Regions from separate parts of the Homo sapiens genome. Here region 1 is linked to region 2. A link means that fine-mapping ties the variant in region 2 to the expression of a gene that starts in the linked region. Tissue or cell type: whole blood. Region 2 holds a variant in brackets; the other region holds the start of a gene. All regions are shown on one strand. Distances are from middle to middle.

Region 1 (8,102 bases), 140 kb after region 2:
ATGAAGATAATGGATGAGGTAGCCAGTCAGGAATGAAATGACTTTAATTTTAATTTTTTTTTAGAGACAGGGTTTTGTTCTGTCACCCAGGCTGGAGCACAGTGGCGCGATCATAGCTTTTTGCAGCCTCAACCTCCCAGACTCAAGCAGTCCTCTCACCTCACCTTCCCATGTAGTTGGGACTACAGATGCATGCCACCACGCCTGGCTAATTTTAATTTTTTTTTTTTTAGAGATGGGGTCTTGCCATGTTGTCCAGGCTGGTCTCGAACTCCTGGACTTAAATGATTCTGTCAAATAACAGGTGTGAGCAAACACGTCCAGCCTTTGCTCACACTCTTAATGGTGAAGTGTTTTTTTTTTTTTCATAGTGTACTGTATCAATATCTTAACATTATACTGAAAAGCTCAGATGTCGGGCCGGATGCAGTGGCTCACGCCTGTAATCCCAGCACTTTGGGAGGCCGAGGTGGGCAGATCACGAGGTCAGGAGATCAAGACCATCCTGGCTAACACGGTAAAACCCCATCTCTACTAAAAATACAAAAAATTAGCCGGATGTGGCAGCGTGCGCCTGTAGTCCCAGCTACTTGGGAGCTGAGGCAGGAGAATGGCGTGAACCCGGGAGGCGGATCTTGCAGTGATCCACCCACCACTGCACTCCAGCCTGGGCGACAGAAGGAGACTCCGTCTCAAAACAAAACAAAACAAAACAAAACAAAACAAAACAAAGCTCAGATGTCATATTCTTCAAGATTTCAAGATGCCATTTCGGGTCGCCTATTTAGGCTTTTCTCTCCTGCCATATTGCTTGCAAATCTATTATAATATACAAGTCATTCTGCCAAGCACATTCCTGTTGTAGAGTAACCAGTTGTCCCAGTTTGCCTGGAACTTATGGGTTTCTTGGGATGCAAGACTTTTTGGTGATGCAGTGCTAGAATATGAAAAGGGATCAGGCATGGTGGCTCACACCTATGGTCCCAGCTAATCCAGAGGCTGAGGCCGGAGGATCACTTGCTTGAAGCCACTACTTTGAAACCACCCTGGGCAACACAACGAGACCATCTCTACAAAAAGTAAAAAAAAAAAAAAAAAAAAATAGCTGGGCATAGTAGCACATGCCTGTAGTCCCAGTTACTTGGGAGGCTGAGGCAGGAGGATTGCTTGGGCCCAGGAGTTGGAGGCTGTGGTGAGCTATGCTCACACCACTGCACTCCAGCCTCAGTGACAGAACGAGACCCTTTCTCCAAAAAAATAAAAATAAAACATGAAACGGTCCAGGCAACAAGTTAGTCACCGTAATCTGTCAACAAGTCTGTCTTCCCCCTTATAGCCAATACTCCAGGAGGGAAGAGACCACACTTTCTTACCTCTATTCATACAATGACTTGCACATACAAATAGTGATAATATTAACAACAACAATAACAGTTTATTTTATTTTATTTTTATTGATTTCCTGGCTTCTAGAACTGAATTAATAGTTTATAGTTGAGCTTTTCTACATCCCAGGCCCTGTGCTTAGTTCCTTACAACAATCCAATGAGGTAAGCCATTTTTCCCTTCTATAGGGAAACTGAAGCTAAACCAGTTAAATCAACATTTAAGAGTGTGGGACTGAAAAGGAAACTTAATCACCACCCACCATGTTAGTACAGTGGTTCTCAAACTTTTTGATCTTGGAATCCCTTTACACTGCTGTTAAAAATTACTGAAAATCCCAAAAAAACTTTTTTTTTTTTTTTGACAAGGTCTTGCTCTGTCGCCCAGGCTGGAGTACAGTAATGTGATCCTAGCTTACTGCAGCCTCCTTCTGGGCTCAAGCCATCCGTCCACGTCAGCCTCCCAAAGTGCTGGGATTACAGGCATGAGCCACTGCGTCCGGCCCCCAAAAACTTTTATATGTAGTATACAGAATTTAAAAAATATATTCATTATTTCATTTAAACATTAAGGCCCTTCACATGAATACATTTTAAAATGAAAAAGAACAATATTTTCAAAAAAAAAAAAAAACAACAAAAAATTCTGGCAAATCTGTTTTAATGTTTGGTTTATCAGAAAACAGCGGCCGGGCGCGGTGGCTCACGCCTGTAATCCCAGCACTTTGGGAGGCCGAGACGGGCAGATCACGAGGTCAGAAGATCGAGACCATCCTGGCTAAAACGGTGAAACCCCGTCTCTACTAAAAATACAAAAAAATTAGCCGGGCGTAGTGGCGGGCGCCTGTAGTCCCAGCTACTCCGGAGGCTGAGTCAAGAGAATGGCGTGAAGCCAGGAGGCGGATCTTGCAGTGAGCCGAGATCGCGCCACTGCACTCCAGCCTGGGCGACTGAGCAAGACTCTGTCTCAAAAAAAAAAAAAAAAAAAAAAAAAGAAAAGGAAAGAAAGCAGCTGGATTGCAGGAGGGGGTATAGCTCACAGGTAGAGCATTGGACTACAGATCAAGAAAACAGCTGGATTCTCACATTTAAGTCTACCTTCATTGTTACGGGAGGCGCTGCTGTATTGTATGAAACAATAAATTGCACATTCAGACTTTTAAATATCTCGATGGGATAGGCATCAGGAGAAGAGGTATCTTCGGTTTGCACGAGCTTTGATTTTTCTTTTTTCTTTTTTTTTCCGAGACGGAGTCTCGCTCTTGTCACCCAGGCTGGAGTATAATGGCGTGATCTCGGCTCACTGCAATCTCCGCCTCCCGGGTTCAAGCGATTCTCCTGCCCCAGCCTCCCAAGTAGCTGGGATTACAGGCGCCCGCCACCCGGCTAATTTTTGTATTTTTAGTAGAGACGGGGTTTCACTATGTTGTTTAGGCTGGTCTCGAACTCCTGACTTCGGCCTCCCAAAGCGCTAGGATTACAGGCGTGAGTCACCGCACCCGCCCCGAACGTTGATTTTGATTTGAGACTGGGTCTGGACGAATGCTGGGGACTCCAGCGAGGAGCTAGTCAGGACAACAGGCACCTCACCTCACCCAAACCCAAACCTGCGAGCCCTTCCCAGGTCACCCACGCTTGCTCGAGCTTGGACTACAACTCCCGGCAGAGCTCGCGGCAGGGGGTGTGCCCGCAATCGCGAGGAGCGTGGGTGACTCAAACCAAGTGACGGAAGTGAGCGAGGGCGTGCCTGTTTGTTGCAGGCGCGGTGTAGCAATTGGAGGACCCAGGAAGAAGGGGCGGAGCCTATGCTTGGGTCAACCAATGGCTTGAGCTCAGGAGCAACCAGGGCACGGGGCGTGTCGGGGCTGATTCTCTGGCTGTGTGGGGCGCACGGTCCCGGGATACTGGGGACGGCGGGGTGGGAGGGCGCCGTCCTGGGGCCGCGGCGGCCGGGCGGGGGAGATGGCGGCGCGATGGAGCAGCGAAAACGTGGTTGTAGAGTTCCGTGACTCCCAGGTGAGCTAGAGGCCGAGTGGAGCCCTCTGGGCATGCGTCCTCCCCGCTTCCCCTCCCCCACGCGGCTGCTTCCGTCCCGGGGGGCTACGGGGAGACCCTAGGCCCCGTACTGAGGAGGTGGGCGGGGCTTAGCCGACCTCTTAGGCCCCGTCGGGGGAGGGAAGACGACCATCGGGGGCAATCGGGGCGAGCATGGACGGAGTTTCGGGGCTCCCTACGCGGGTAGGGGAGTGGGGTCCGCCTTGTGACACTGAGGCAGAGACTGCGCATCGTGAGTGCTGAGGGGAGGCTTCCCACAATCAGGGTACGGAGCGAGGGCGTGACGGCTTCCCGAGGCCCTAGCCGCGTGTGGCGACTTAAGGCAAGTCGCGGGACTTTTCTAAGTCTCAGCTGCGTGGACGTAACCCTGTTGGGGTGAATTCGATGAAACACTGTTTGCAAAGTGCCTGTTGCAGCGTCTACGCGGTTAAGTGGTTCTTAATGCCATCATACTGGAAAATACCGTGTAGTGGATAGGAGTGACACTGCACGTGTTGCCCGAGTTCGAATCCCGCAGCCCCTACCCTGTCATCACTCCGTACACGTCAGTTTTCTCACCTGTAGAAGGGAGATGGTCGTACTTACAAGATTGGCTTAAAGATTTTATTTTTTAATTTTCTATTTAATTTAATTTAATTTATTTTTTTTGAGATGGAGAGTCACTCTGTTGCCCAGGCTGGAGTGCAGTGGTGCCATCTTGGCTCACTGCAACCTCCGCCTCCGGGATTCAAGCAATTCTCCTGCCTCAGCCTCCCAAGTAGCTGGGATTACAGGTGCGCACCACCACGCCCGGCTAATTTTTGTATTTTTAGTAGAGACGGGGTTTCACCTTGTTGGTCAGGCTGGTCTTGAACTCCTGACCTCAGGTGATCCACCCACCTCAGCCTCCCAAAGTGCTGGGATTACAGGCGTGGGCCACCGTGCCTGGCCTATTTTACTTCATTTGAGACAGGGTCTGGCTCTGTCACCCAGGCTTGAGTGCAGAGGCGTGAATCACCGCTCAGTTCAGCTTCGACCTCCTGGGCTCAAGCTATCCTCCCACCTCAGCCTCCCCAGTAGCTGAGACTACAGGCGCATGCCAACACGCCCGACTAAATTTTTCATTTTTTTTTGTAGAGACGGGGTCTCCCTATGTTGTCCAGGCTGGTATGGAACTCCTGGGCTCAAGCGAACCCCCTGCCTCAGCGTCCCAAAGTGTTGGGATTACAGGTGTGATTCACTGAGCACAGCCTCGAGTGAAGATTTTATGTGGTTGTATGTTGAGGATGTGTGGCACACACAGCATTGGGATTTGGATGCTGGATCCTACCCCAGAGCCCTTGTTTAGCTCATTGGACTACTTTACTCATAGTGGGTAGCTCTGAACCGGTCATATACATCCCCTCTTCCCCAGCACCTAGGACAGTGTCTTGGTGATTCTCTTCAATTTTAAATTTATTTACCTTTTTTTTTGAGACAGAGTCTCACTCTATGACCCAGACTGTAGTGTAGTGGCATGATCTTGGTTCACTGCAACCTCTGCCTCCCAGGTTCAAACGATTCTTGTGCCTCAGCCTCCCGAGTAGCTGGGATTACAGGCACGTGCCACCATGCCTGGCTAAGTTTTGTATTTTTTGTAGAGACGGGGTTTCGCTCTGTTGGCCAGGCTGGTCTTGAACTCCTGGCCTCAAGTGATCCATCTGCCTTGGCCTCCTAAAGTGCTGGGATTACAGGTGTGAGCCACTACACCTGGCCTATTATTTTTTGTAGAGACAGAGTCTCTTTGTGTTGCCCAGGCTGGTCTTGAACCCCTGGCCTCAGGCGATTCTCCCACTTTGGCCTCCCAAAATATTGGGATTACAGGTGTGAGCGACTGTGCCTGGCCATTCTTTTCATTTATTCAACTAATATTTATCAAATACCTTCTGTGTGCCACACTTTTATTCACTCATTTATTCAACAAGGATTTACTGAGCTCCCTTCAGGTATACACTATACCATGCACAGGTGATTCATACTGAGGGAGATCTGGATAAGTATGAATGGGTGATGTGGTTTCTTCTTTCCAAAACCCCATCCTGTCTTTTGCCGGAGAATGAGTGAGTGGAGGAGCTACCCACCATTTTGCTCTGTGGTGCCCTCTGATCAGTAGCCTCTACTGAGAATTTGAGCAGTAGCATTTGGATTAAGGACCCCCAAGTACTGTCAGCACAGAGTCTCCGTGAGACCTGCTCTCCCTAGGGAGGCGCCAGACTCCTTGGAAAAGGAACCATATTCCTGTTTTCTTTCTTGTTAATTGCTTTTACTGGCAACTAGGACAGAATAGAATCATGTATCATGCCTCTAAGCCTGCTAATTTGGAAGCTACTAATCTGCAAACCCTTTAATTTTCACAGAAACCCAGGTAGTCTCACCCCTGCCTGTTTATAGAGATGTAATTGAAGAGACCTGCAGAGAGGGTGCTGACACATATATTAGGATGCTATGAAGTCGTAGCAAATAATTAAACCTCAACAGCAGTTGTCACAGTAAGAGAACAAAGTAAATTGGGTAATTTTACTGCCTTGTGGGAGTTTCTGTTTTTTTGTTCTGATTTTCCTATTTACAAGGCTTCCTCTTTATGTGAATTAGCATGGTTTTGTGGGTGATTCTGGTGATGATTGGAAGGGGCAGGAACCCATTTTATTAACTATTTTGTTAATGTAGAAAGACAAAGTTAAAACTCTTCATAATGCCTTTATGAATAGGAGCAATAAACTTTTCAAAACACTCCACATCTTTTAAATAATAATTTTATTAAAAAATTTTTAATTAAAATATTTAAATTTCTTTCATTTTGCATTTTTTTTTTAAATAGGGATAGGAGTCTCTGTATCTTGCCCAGGTGGTCTTGAACTCCGAGGTTCAAGTGATTTTCCTGCTGCAGCTTCCCAAAGTGCTGGGATTACAGGCGTGAGCCACCGTGCCTGGCCTAAAAAATATACATATATGGCCAGGCGTGGTGGCTCACGCCTGTAATCCCACCACTTTGGGAGGCCGAGGTAGGCGGATCACCTGAGGTCAGGAGTTTGAGACCAGCCTGGCCAACATGGTGAAACCCTATCTCTACTAAAGATACAAAAATTAGCCGACCATAGTGGCATGCACCTGTAATCCCAGCTACTTGGGAGGCTAAGGCAGGAGAATAGCTTGAACCTGGGAGGCAGAGGTTGCAGTGAGCCAAGATCTCACCACTGTACTCCAGCCTGGGCGACAGAGTGAGACTCCATCTAAAAAAAAAAAAAATATATATATATATATATATATATATATATATATATATATATATATATGTAAATGTATATGTATTGTCTAAAAAAATACAAAAAATATATATGTATATATGTGTAAGACAGGGTCTTGCTCTGTCACCCAGGCTGGAATGCAGTGGTGCAATCTTGGCTCACCTCAGCCTCAACCTTATGGTATCAAGTGATCTTCCCACCTCAGTCTCCTGAGTAGCTGTGAATACAGGTGCACACCACCAAGCCCCACAATTTTGTGTGTGTGTGTTTTTTTTGTTTTTTTTTTGAGACAGAGTCTCTCTCTGTCGCCCAGGCTGGAGTGCAGTGGCATGATCTCTGCTCACTGCAAACTCTGCCTCCCAGGTTCACGGCATTCTCCTGCCTCAACCTCCCAAGTAGCTGGGACTACAGGCGCCCACCACCACGCCTGGCTAATTTTTTGTATATATATATTTTTTTTAGTAGAGACAGGGTTTCACCGTGTTAGCCAGGATGGTCTCGATCTCCTGACCTTGTGATCCGCCCGCCTCAGCCTCCCAAAGTGCTGGGATTACAGGCGTGAGCCACCGCACCCGGCCTTTTTGTGTGTTTTTTTTTGCAGAGATGGGGCTTTACGTTCTTGTTCAGGCTGGTCTTGAACTCCTGAGCTGAAGTGATCCTCCCACCTTGGCCTAAAAATATATATTTTTTTATTTTTGAGATGGAGTCTCGCTCTGTTGCCCAGGCTGGAGTGCAGTGGCGCAATCTCAGCTCGCTGTCACCTCCACCTCCTGGGTTCAAGTGCTTCTCCTGCCTCCTGAGTAGCTGGGATTACAGGCGTGCCCCACCACACCGGGCTAATTTTTGTATTTTAGTAGAGATGGGGTTTCGTCATGTTGGCCAGGCTGGTCTTGAACTCCTTACCTGAAGTGATATGCCTGCCTCAGCCTCCCAAAGCGCTGGATTACAGATGTGAGCCATTGCACCTGGTCTGAAAATAATTTTTTAAAATTAAAACTTTTAGATTTTTTGGCTGGGCGTAGGCTAACGCCTGTAATCCTAGCACTTTAGGAGGCCAAGGCAGGTAGATCACCTGAGGTCAGGAGTTTGAGACCAGCCTGGCCAACATGGTGAAACCCCATCTCTACTAAAAATACAAAAATTAGCCAGGCATGGTGGCGTGTGCCTGTAATTCCACCTACTCGGGAGGCTGAGGCAGGAGAGTCACTTGAACCTGGGAGGCGGAGGTTGCAGCGAGCCAAATCGCACCGTTGCACTACAGCCTGGGCAAGAGCGAAACTCTGTCTCAAAAAAAAAAAAAAAAAAGACTTAGATTTTTCAGAGGAAAACCCCAGTCTGAAGTGTGAAAGTCTTTTTTATAGTTTATAAAAGTGCCATTTATTTTATGAAACAATGCTTT
Region 2 (8,102 bases):
TTTACCTTGTTTTATACATGACCTTTAAATTAGCTTTGAAGCCGGGCGTGGTGGCTCACGCCTGTAATCCCAGCACTTTAAGAGGCTGAGGAGGGCAGATCACCTGAGGTCAGGAGTCCAAGACCAGCCTGGCTAACATGGCAAAACCCTGTCTCTACTAAAAAATATCAGAATTAGCCAGGAGTGGTGGTGGGTGCCTGTAATCCCAGCTACTTGGGAGGCTGAGGCAGGAGAATCGCTTGAACCTGGAAGGCAGAGGTTGCAGTGAGCTTTGTACCACTGCACTCCAGCCTGGGCAACAGAGCAAGACTCTTGTCTCAAAAAAAAAAAACTTTCAATTAGACAAAAATTGTTCACCTTTTTCAAAAGGACACACTTATTTTTTATTTGTATTTTACTTTTTTTGAGATGGAGTCTCACTTTGTCACCCAGGCTGGAGTGCAGAGGCGCAATCTTGGCTTACTGCAACCTCTGCTTCCTGGGTTCAAGTGATTCTCCTCCCTCTGCCTCCCGAGTAGTTGGGACTACAGGTGCGTGCTATCAGGCCCAGCTAATTTTTTTTTGTATTTTTAGTAGAGACAGGGTTTCACCGTGTCGGCCAGAATGGTCTTGATTTCCTGACCTTGTGATGCATCCTCCTTGGCCTCCTAAAGTGCTGGGATTACAGGTGTGAGCCACCACACCTGGCTGGGACACAACTTTTTTTAAGAAAGAATGTTTTTGGCCTGTGTGGTGGCTCACACCTGTAATCCCAGCACTTTGGGAGGCTGAGGTGGACAGATTGCCTGAGCTCAGGAGTTCGAGACCAGCCTGGGCAACATAGTGAAACTCTGTCTCTACTAAAATACAAAAAATTAGCCAGACATGGTGGCATGCATCTGTAGTCCCAGCTACTTGGGAGGCTGAGGCAGGAGAATTGCTTGAACCCTGCACCACTGCACTCCAGCCTGGGTGACAGAGGAAGACTCTTTCTCCAAAAAAAAAGAATGTTTTCCTACATATATATATATATATATATATATATATATATATATATATATATACATATACACACACACACACACACACATTCTTATATATATATTTGTAGGAAAACATTCCACAAATATATATACACATATATATATATATACACATATATATATTTTAGACAGAGTCTCTGTGTCGCCCAGGCTGGAGTGCAGTGGCATGATCTTGGTTCACTGCAACCTCCACCTCCTGGGTTCAAGTGATTCTCCTGCCTCAGCCTCCTGAGTAGCTGGGACTACAGGCATGCACCACTGTGCCCAGCTAATTTTTGCATTTTTAATAGAGATGAGGTTTCACCATGTTGGCCAGGCTGGTCTCAAACTTCTGACCTCACGTGATCCACTCGCCTTGTCCTCCCCAAGTGCTGGGATTACAGGTGTGAGCCACTGCACTTGGCCCAAATATATTTTTATTGGAAAATACCCAAATAATAAAATCTCTATTATTTAACTTTAGATTCAAAATTATGAGTTTGTCTATATTTATCCTATAATATTTACTTATTTTATTTTAATTACTTACCTAGATTATTTATAAAAACTGTGCTTGTCATTATTTAAAATTATGGAACTGCCATTGCAAAATTATCACTGAGACAGTGAAAAAGATTGCACCTAAGTGACTCCATCTTGCTTCTAACCTCCAAGCTGTTCTTGTTCATTCCTGGGCATAGGCCAAACTAACTTTGGGAGGAACTTATAATTTAGCTTTGAAACAAAGATGATAACAGTGCTTTTCCAAAACAAACACTATTGCCTATAGACCGGACTGCCTAAAGCCACAAGATGAGAAGTTATGGTAATCTTACTAAATTTAAGATGTAGCTATTTTTATTAAACCAATATTAATGTCTTATTTATTAAAGATTTGTTAAATATAGTGAACTCCAAGTTTCTCTTCAAAGAATCAGTATGTCAGTATGTTCAGCTCTCTTATTCTTTGATTCTCCATTTTAAAGTTTAGCTTCCTGGTTCTCTTTGCCCCCTAGCTTCTAGTTTCAGTAAACAACTTTCCCGCCAGTCCTAATCAGTAGTTCACAGCTGTTCCCCTGGTCACCTGCTTTGACCTGAGTCACTCTTGGTCACCTACTCTGTCCTGATTCATCCTGAGCCAACTGTTCTGTAACCGCCCTTACTGCTAAACTACTCACCCTGCCACTCCGGCTGGTACTCCTGCTCTTTTTAAAATAGTCAATTGGAATTAGCTTAGACTGTGCGGTCCAACCCTATCCAATAGGGGAACGACACAGCAGTAGGGGCTACCTGCATGAGGAATAAGAACTCCTGCCCCTCCCCTGTCCAAGTGTGCTCTCACCATTGTTTCATCTGCGAGGGGCACCTTTTCTGCAGAAAGTGAAAATTGCCTTGCTGAGAAAACTAAATTTATGTTTGAGTGCTATTTCTTTGTGGCACTGGGGAATAAGCATTTTGCATTTCTAACAAGCTTACACAAGCAAAGATCATTCTGTTTTGGGCTGGGTATACAGTTTTGTAACCCCTATGAGAAATTTTGACACCTTATAGTATTTGGCAGGGATAAGTATGAAACTGCTGGATTAATATGCAAACAAAAATGTATGCTGGCAATTCTTCAGACATTTCTAATATTACTTTACCAGTAATTTTAAGGCTAGCTTATTTATTAATAATTTTACTGAGTTACATAAACTTGAAAAAATATTTGACGAGTCTTTTTTCCTGATAAAGCATTTCATTCGAGCACTTTTATTTTCTTAAGCCAGTTAATTAGAGCTCTTTTAAGCATTTTCAGTAGTGAAGCATTGTGTACACAACACATAAATACATAGACGTATTAGGCATGCTGATAGAAGTACATCTTATGGATACACTCAGATTATTGATAACCTGCTTCACAACCCTAGGCAGTTGTCAGCTAACTAGCCTTATGTTTGCATATTAAAGGAAACAACTCAGGTGAAAATCAAATAGCAAAATTTACATCATAAGGTACAGAGAGAAAAAGTCTGATGGTGCCAGAGGGAGATGAAAGATGAATGCCAAATCAAACATAAAATTAAAGAAATTTGCCGGGTGTGGTGGTTCATTCCTGTAATCCCAACACTTTGGGGGGCCGAGGTGGG[C/T]GGATCACAAGGTCAGGAGATCGAAACCATCCTGGCTAACACGGCGAAACCCCGTCTCTATTAAAAATACAAAAAATTAGCTGGGCGTGGTGGTGGGCGCCTGTAGTCCCAGTTATGTCTGTACTCTCTGGAGTACAGAGATCACCCCACTGTACTCCAACCTGGGTGACAGCGAGACTCTGTCTCAAAAAAAAAAAAACAAAAAAGAAATTTATCATAGGATTGTATAAGGAGACTAGTTTTATTTAGATAAAGGGACTACCTTTTAAGTGGATCTCTGAGCTCTGGGCAGAGCCCACACTGAATCCTGGGTCTCCAAGAAGGGACACTTATTATGAGGTTAGAACACGTGATGCTTTTACAGTGCACTTTTTAAAAAACTTCTTTTAAACAAAGACATTTCTAAGTGTCTAAACCATAGTCTTCCTTAAAAACCCAAGGGTAGGCTGGGTGCAGTGGCTTATGCCTGTAATCCCAGCACTTTGGGAGGCTGAGGCGGGCGGATCATGAGGTCAGGAGATCGAGACCATCCTGGCTAACACGGTGAAACCCGTCTCTACTAAAAATACAAAACAAACAAACAAACAAACAAACAAACAAAAAACAAGCTGGGCATGGTGGCGCTTGTAGTCCCAGCTACTTGGGAGGCTGAGGCAGGAGAATGGCGTGAACCCGGGAGGCGGAGCTTGCAGTGAGCCGAGATTGCGCCACTGCACTCCAGCCTGGGCGACAGAGTGAAACTCAGACTCAAAACAAACAAACAAACAATACAAAAAACAAAAAACAAAAAAACCCAAGGGTAACCTCTGTTGCAATAACTATTTTAGTCAAAAAAAAAAACAAAAAAAAACCCAAAAAAAAACCACAAACAGGTAACAACAATACAAAAGTAAGCAGTTGAAGAGACGAGACGAACTTGCCTGTTTACACTCTGGGGATTGCATAAGAAAAAACAGGTTTCTCCCTTAAAGGGAGCCTGGTGCCTTCTCTGTTCTCTTTAAGGAACCCCAGCTATTATAAACTATTTTAGGTCCCTCATGCAGCAGAGGGTGCAAGAGAAAGGAGATACAGCCGAAGTAAATGAAGAAAACAGAATTCAGTCAACTGAGAAGAAAAAAACTTTCGCTCAAAAAAAGACAAGATTCTTGGAGAAAAACAAAAACAAAAACATGAAGTCCTTTTAAATACAAACACACACACGCACATGCGCACACACACACACACCACACATACACATGCACATCTTCGATGTTAGCTTTTAATTAAGCTGACTTTTAATCATTGAGCTCCTTTAAAAAAATCTTTTAAAATCTCATTACCATATTTCAGCTAGGACAAATTGCTGCTATTTCAGAAGCACAGCCATTGCTCTTTCAGTTTGGCCTGGCTAGCAAAAAGGTGGCCTCGTTGTGTAACTAAAGCCACTTAGTAGTCAAAATAAAAAATCTTTCCTTTTTTTTTTCCTTTTGCTGGCTGTTTTTCACCCCCTATCACATCATCCTTTGTGTATGTGTGTGTGTGTGAATTTAGCCACTTCAGAGGCCTTGTTCCCCATAATTTGGGACTTCCTTTGTATTTGATCAAGTCAGATAGAGTTGATCAAACCCAATGGGAAAAAGACTGAAAGAACAACAAAAAGAGAAATGAACAACAACAAAACAGTTAAGCAAAACAAATGATCACACAATTTATATGATTACTAAGCTTTCTAGTGGTAAGGAGAAATTAAGACCAGCTGGTTGTAATCTTAACTTTAGCCAAAACAAACCCCAATTCAGTTACTTACCTAGGGATGGGTTTCAGGCTGAAGACTGCTCTCTACCATCCTAGAAGCAGGGAAAAACCCTCATCTTCCCTGTTGGTTGCGAGCTCAAACACCATAAAGGAGTTACCTGCCTTCCATCAACATGGAAGCAGGAAAAATTTGCCTTCCTTGTGTTAGAAGCAAGTAAAACTCCAAAAAAAAAAGAGGAGTTGTACAACAAAATGAACTTTAGATCTTGACCAGATTTTGAAAGATAAGGTATTCTCTGGAGGGTGTGCTTCCGGGCCTCAGCAAATTGTCCTATTGGTTTGAGCCATAAAGATAGCTCAAGCTGGTACCAAGCACTGATAGCTTTGTCAAAGGTCAGGGGCGCCTCCAGTCAGAATTCTTCTGTGGTTACCAAAATATGAACCCCCCAAATCTGAGAAAGGTCTCAGTTAATTTAGAAAGTTTATTTTGCCAATGATGATGGTGTGACACAGCCTCAGGAGATCCCAATGACATGTCCCCAAGGTGGTCAGAGCACAATTTAGTTTTATACATTTTGGGGAGACTTGAGACGTCACTCAACATACGTAAGATGAACATTGTTTGGGTCTGGAAAGACAGGGAGGGGGCTTCCCGGTCATAGGTAGATAAGAGACAAATGTTTGCATTCTTTTGAGTTTCTAATTATCCTCTCAAAAGGAGGCAATCAGATATGCATTTAGCTCAGTGATCAGAGGGGTGACTTTGAAAGAATGGGAGGCAGGTTTGCCTTAAGCAGTTCCCAGCTTGACTTTTCCCTTTAGCTTAGTAATTTTGGGGGCTCAAGATATTTCCCTTTCAGACCTCTTCAGTAGAATTCTTTCTTCTGATGAGGCAAGCATTGAGTTTTATGTAGACCTGTATGGATTTCCCACCACTCACATGAAGACCATGACCTGTGACACATTCCCTGGAGGTCCTGAGAACATGTACCCAAGGCAGTTGAGTTACAACTGGTTTTATACAGTTTAGGGAGGCATCAGACAGTAATCAATATAAGCAGGGTATGCATTGGTTCCTTCTGATTGAGGGAGGAGCTTACAGGTCATAGGTGAATTCAAAGACTTTTCTGATTGGCGCTGGGCACGGTGGCTCACACTTGTAATCCCAGCATTTTGGGGAGCCAAGGCGGGTGGATCACTTGAGGTCAGGAGTTCGAGACCAGCCTGGACCAACATGGTGAAACCCTGTCTCTATTAAAAATACAAAAATTAGCTGGGCATGGTGGCACTCCTGTAATCCCAGCTACTTGGGAGGCTGAGGCATGAGAACAGCTTGAACCCAGGAGATGGAGGTTGTAGTGAGCTGAGATCACGCCACTGCCTGAGCAACAGAGTGAGACTCCATCTCAAAAAAAAAAAAAAATTTCTGATTTTCAATTGGTTGAAAGAAGTTATTATCCAAAGACTTGGAATCTTGGTATACAACAACAAAATTTTTTTTAAATAAAAAATTTTAAAAAAGACAACCTGGAATCAATAGAAATAAGCATCTGGGTTAAGATAAGGAGTTGTGGAGACCAAGGTTCTTTTTTTTTGAGACAGAGTCTCGCTCTGTCGCCAGGCTGGAGTGCCGTGGTGCGATCTCAGCTCACTGCAACCTCCACCTCCTGGGTTCAAGCGATTCTCCTGCCTCAGCCTCCCAAGTAGCTGAGACTACAGGCGTGTACCACCATGCCCAGCTAATTTTTGTATTTTTAGTAGAAACGGGGTTTCACCATGTTGGCCAAGAGGGTCTCTATCTCTTGACCTCGTGATCCTCCCACTTTGGCCTCCCAAAGTGCTGGCATTACAGATGTGAGCCGCTGCACCCGGCCCAAGGTTCTTATTATGTAACATAGATGGTAAATGTCTAAGGCGTTAAAAGGTGCCAGACTCTTAGTTAAATCTCCCTTAGATCAGGATAAAACCTGGAAAGAGGCTGGACGCGGTGGCTCATGCCTGTAATCCCAGCACTTTGGGAGGCCAAGGCAGGTGGATCACGAGGTCAGGAGTTCAAGACCAGCCTGGCCAAGATGGTGAAACCCTGTCTCTACTAAAAATAGAAAAATTATCTGGGCACAGTGGCAGGCACCTGTAATCCCAGCTACTTGGGAGGCTGAGGCAGGAGAATCGCTTGAACCCAGTGGGTGGAGGTTGCAGCACGCTACTGCACTCCAGCCTGGGCCACAGAGTGACTCTGTCTCAAAACAAAACAAAACAAAACAAAAAACCTGGAAAGGGGAGGGGATTCTCTACAGATTCTAGATTTTCCCCACAAAAGACAGCTTTTTGGAGCTATTTAAAAAAAAAATCAGAGGAATATATTTTGGGGGTAAAATACATTGATTTCTTTCAGGGCCTGCTATCTGTCAGGTGATGCTAGAGTCAGGTTGGAATTTGGTATCTTATTGCTACAAAGAGTCTGTTTTGTGTCTTAAGATCAGAATGCCTTAAGGTCTCTGTTTTAATGTTAATGCTGGTCAGTTGTGTCTGAATTCTAAAGGAAGGAGGGGGATAATGAGGCTTGTCCTAAACCTCTTCCCATCACAGCCTGAATTAATTTTTCAGGTTTATTTTGGAATGCCCTGGGCTGAGAGGGAGGTCCATTCAGTCGGTTGGGAGGCTTAGAATTTTATTTTTGCCTTACAGTTTCCCAAAACGTCCAGTGAACCTCGCCTCTCCTTTAGAAGTGTCGTCCCTGGAGCCCACGAAAATGTCTGCAAGATCTGCAAGGGCCACCTTAAAGCCCGTGCCACCTTAAGCAGGCCCCACCCCTGGCCTAGCCAATGGGCTGACAGCAGCAGTAGCTGCTGCCACAGTAGCTGACTGGTCACCCTGCCACCCAGTGCTCACACCCTCTGGCCAGTGCCTGGCTATGGCCCGACTGCTCAGGTCTGCAACCTGGGAGCTGTTCCCCTGGAGGGGCTACTGCTCCCAGAAGGCAAAGGTACCGGGAGAGAAGAGAAGTCCTCTGGAGGGATGAGGTGGGGAGCGGGGAGCAGGGGGTTCTGATCCCAAGTTTCCTGGGCTCTGTGACGCCCCAGCACCAAGTGACCTGACCTTGGGCAAAAGGGCACTGGGCTTACCCTGTGGCAACTGTGGGTGGGTGTAGAGTGAGATCAGCTGAGTCCCCACTGCTACCATGAGTGGGGCTGGGGGAGTCAAATGGATGCCCCTGGAATAAAACACACCTGTGGAA

Evidence for each region. PIP is the estimated chance that this variant, and not a neighbour inherited with it, causes the effect.
Region 1: it holds the start of WDR59, and the variant in region 2 is fine-mapped to the expression of WDR59 in whole blood (TOPMed, PIP 0.99).

The regions. Positions count from the first base shown.
Region 1 is chr16:74,980,263-74,988,364 of GRCh38, reverse strand. WDR59 (WD repeat domain 59) reads left to right here and starts at 3,242. Exons shown (of 26, transcript NM_030581.4): 1 at 3,242-3,401. The coding sequence starts at 3,348. RefSeq lists silencers at 1,951-2,151, 3,187-3,496 and an enhancer at 2,797-2,856.
Region 2 is chr16:75,116,397-75,124,498 of GRCh38, reverse strand. It overlaps LDHD (lactate dehydrogenase D), which reads left to right and starts at 7,719. Exons shown (of 11, transcript NM_194436.3): 1 at 7,719-7,850. The coding sequence starts at 7,779. It also overlaps a transcript of ZFP1 not described here. The variant C/T (reference allele first, on the strand shown) is at 3,131.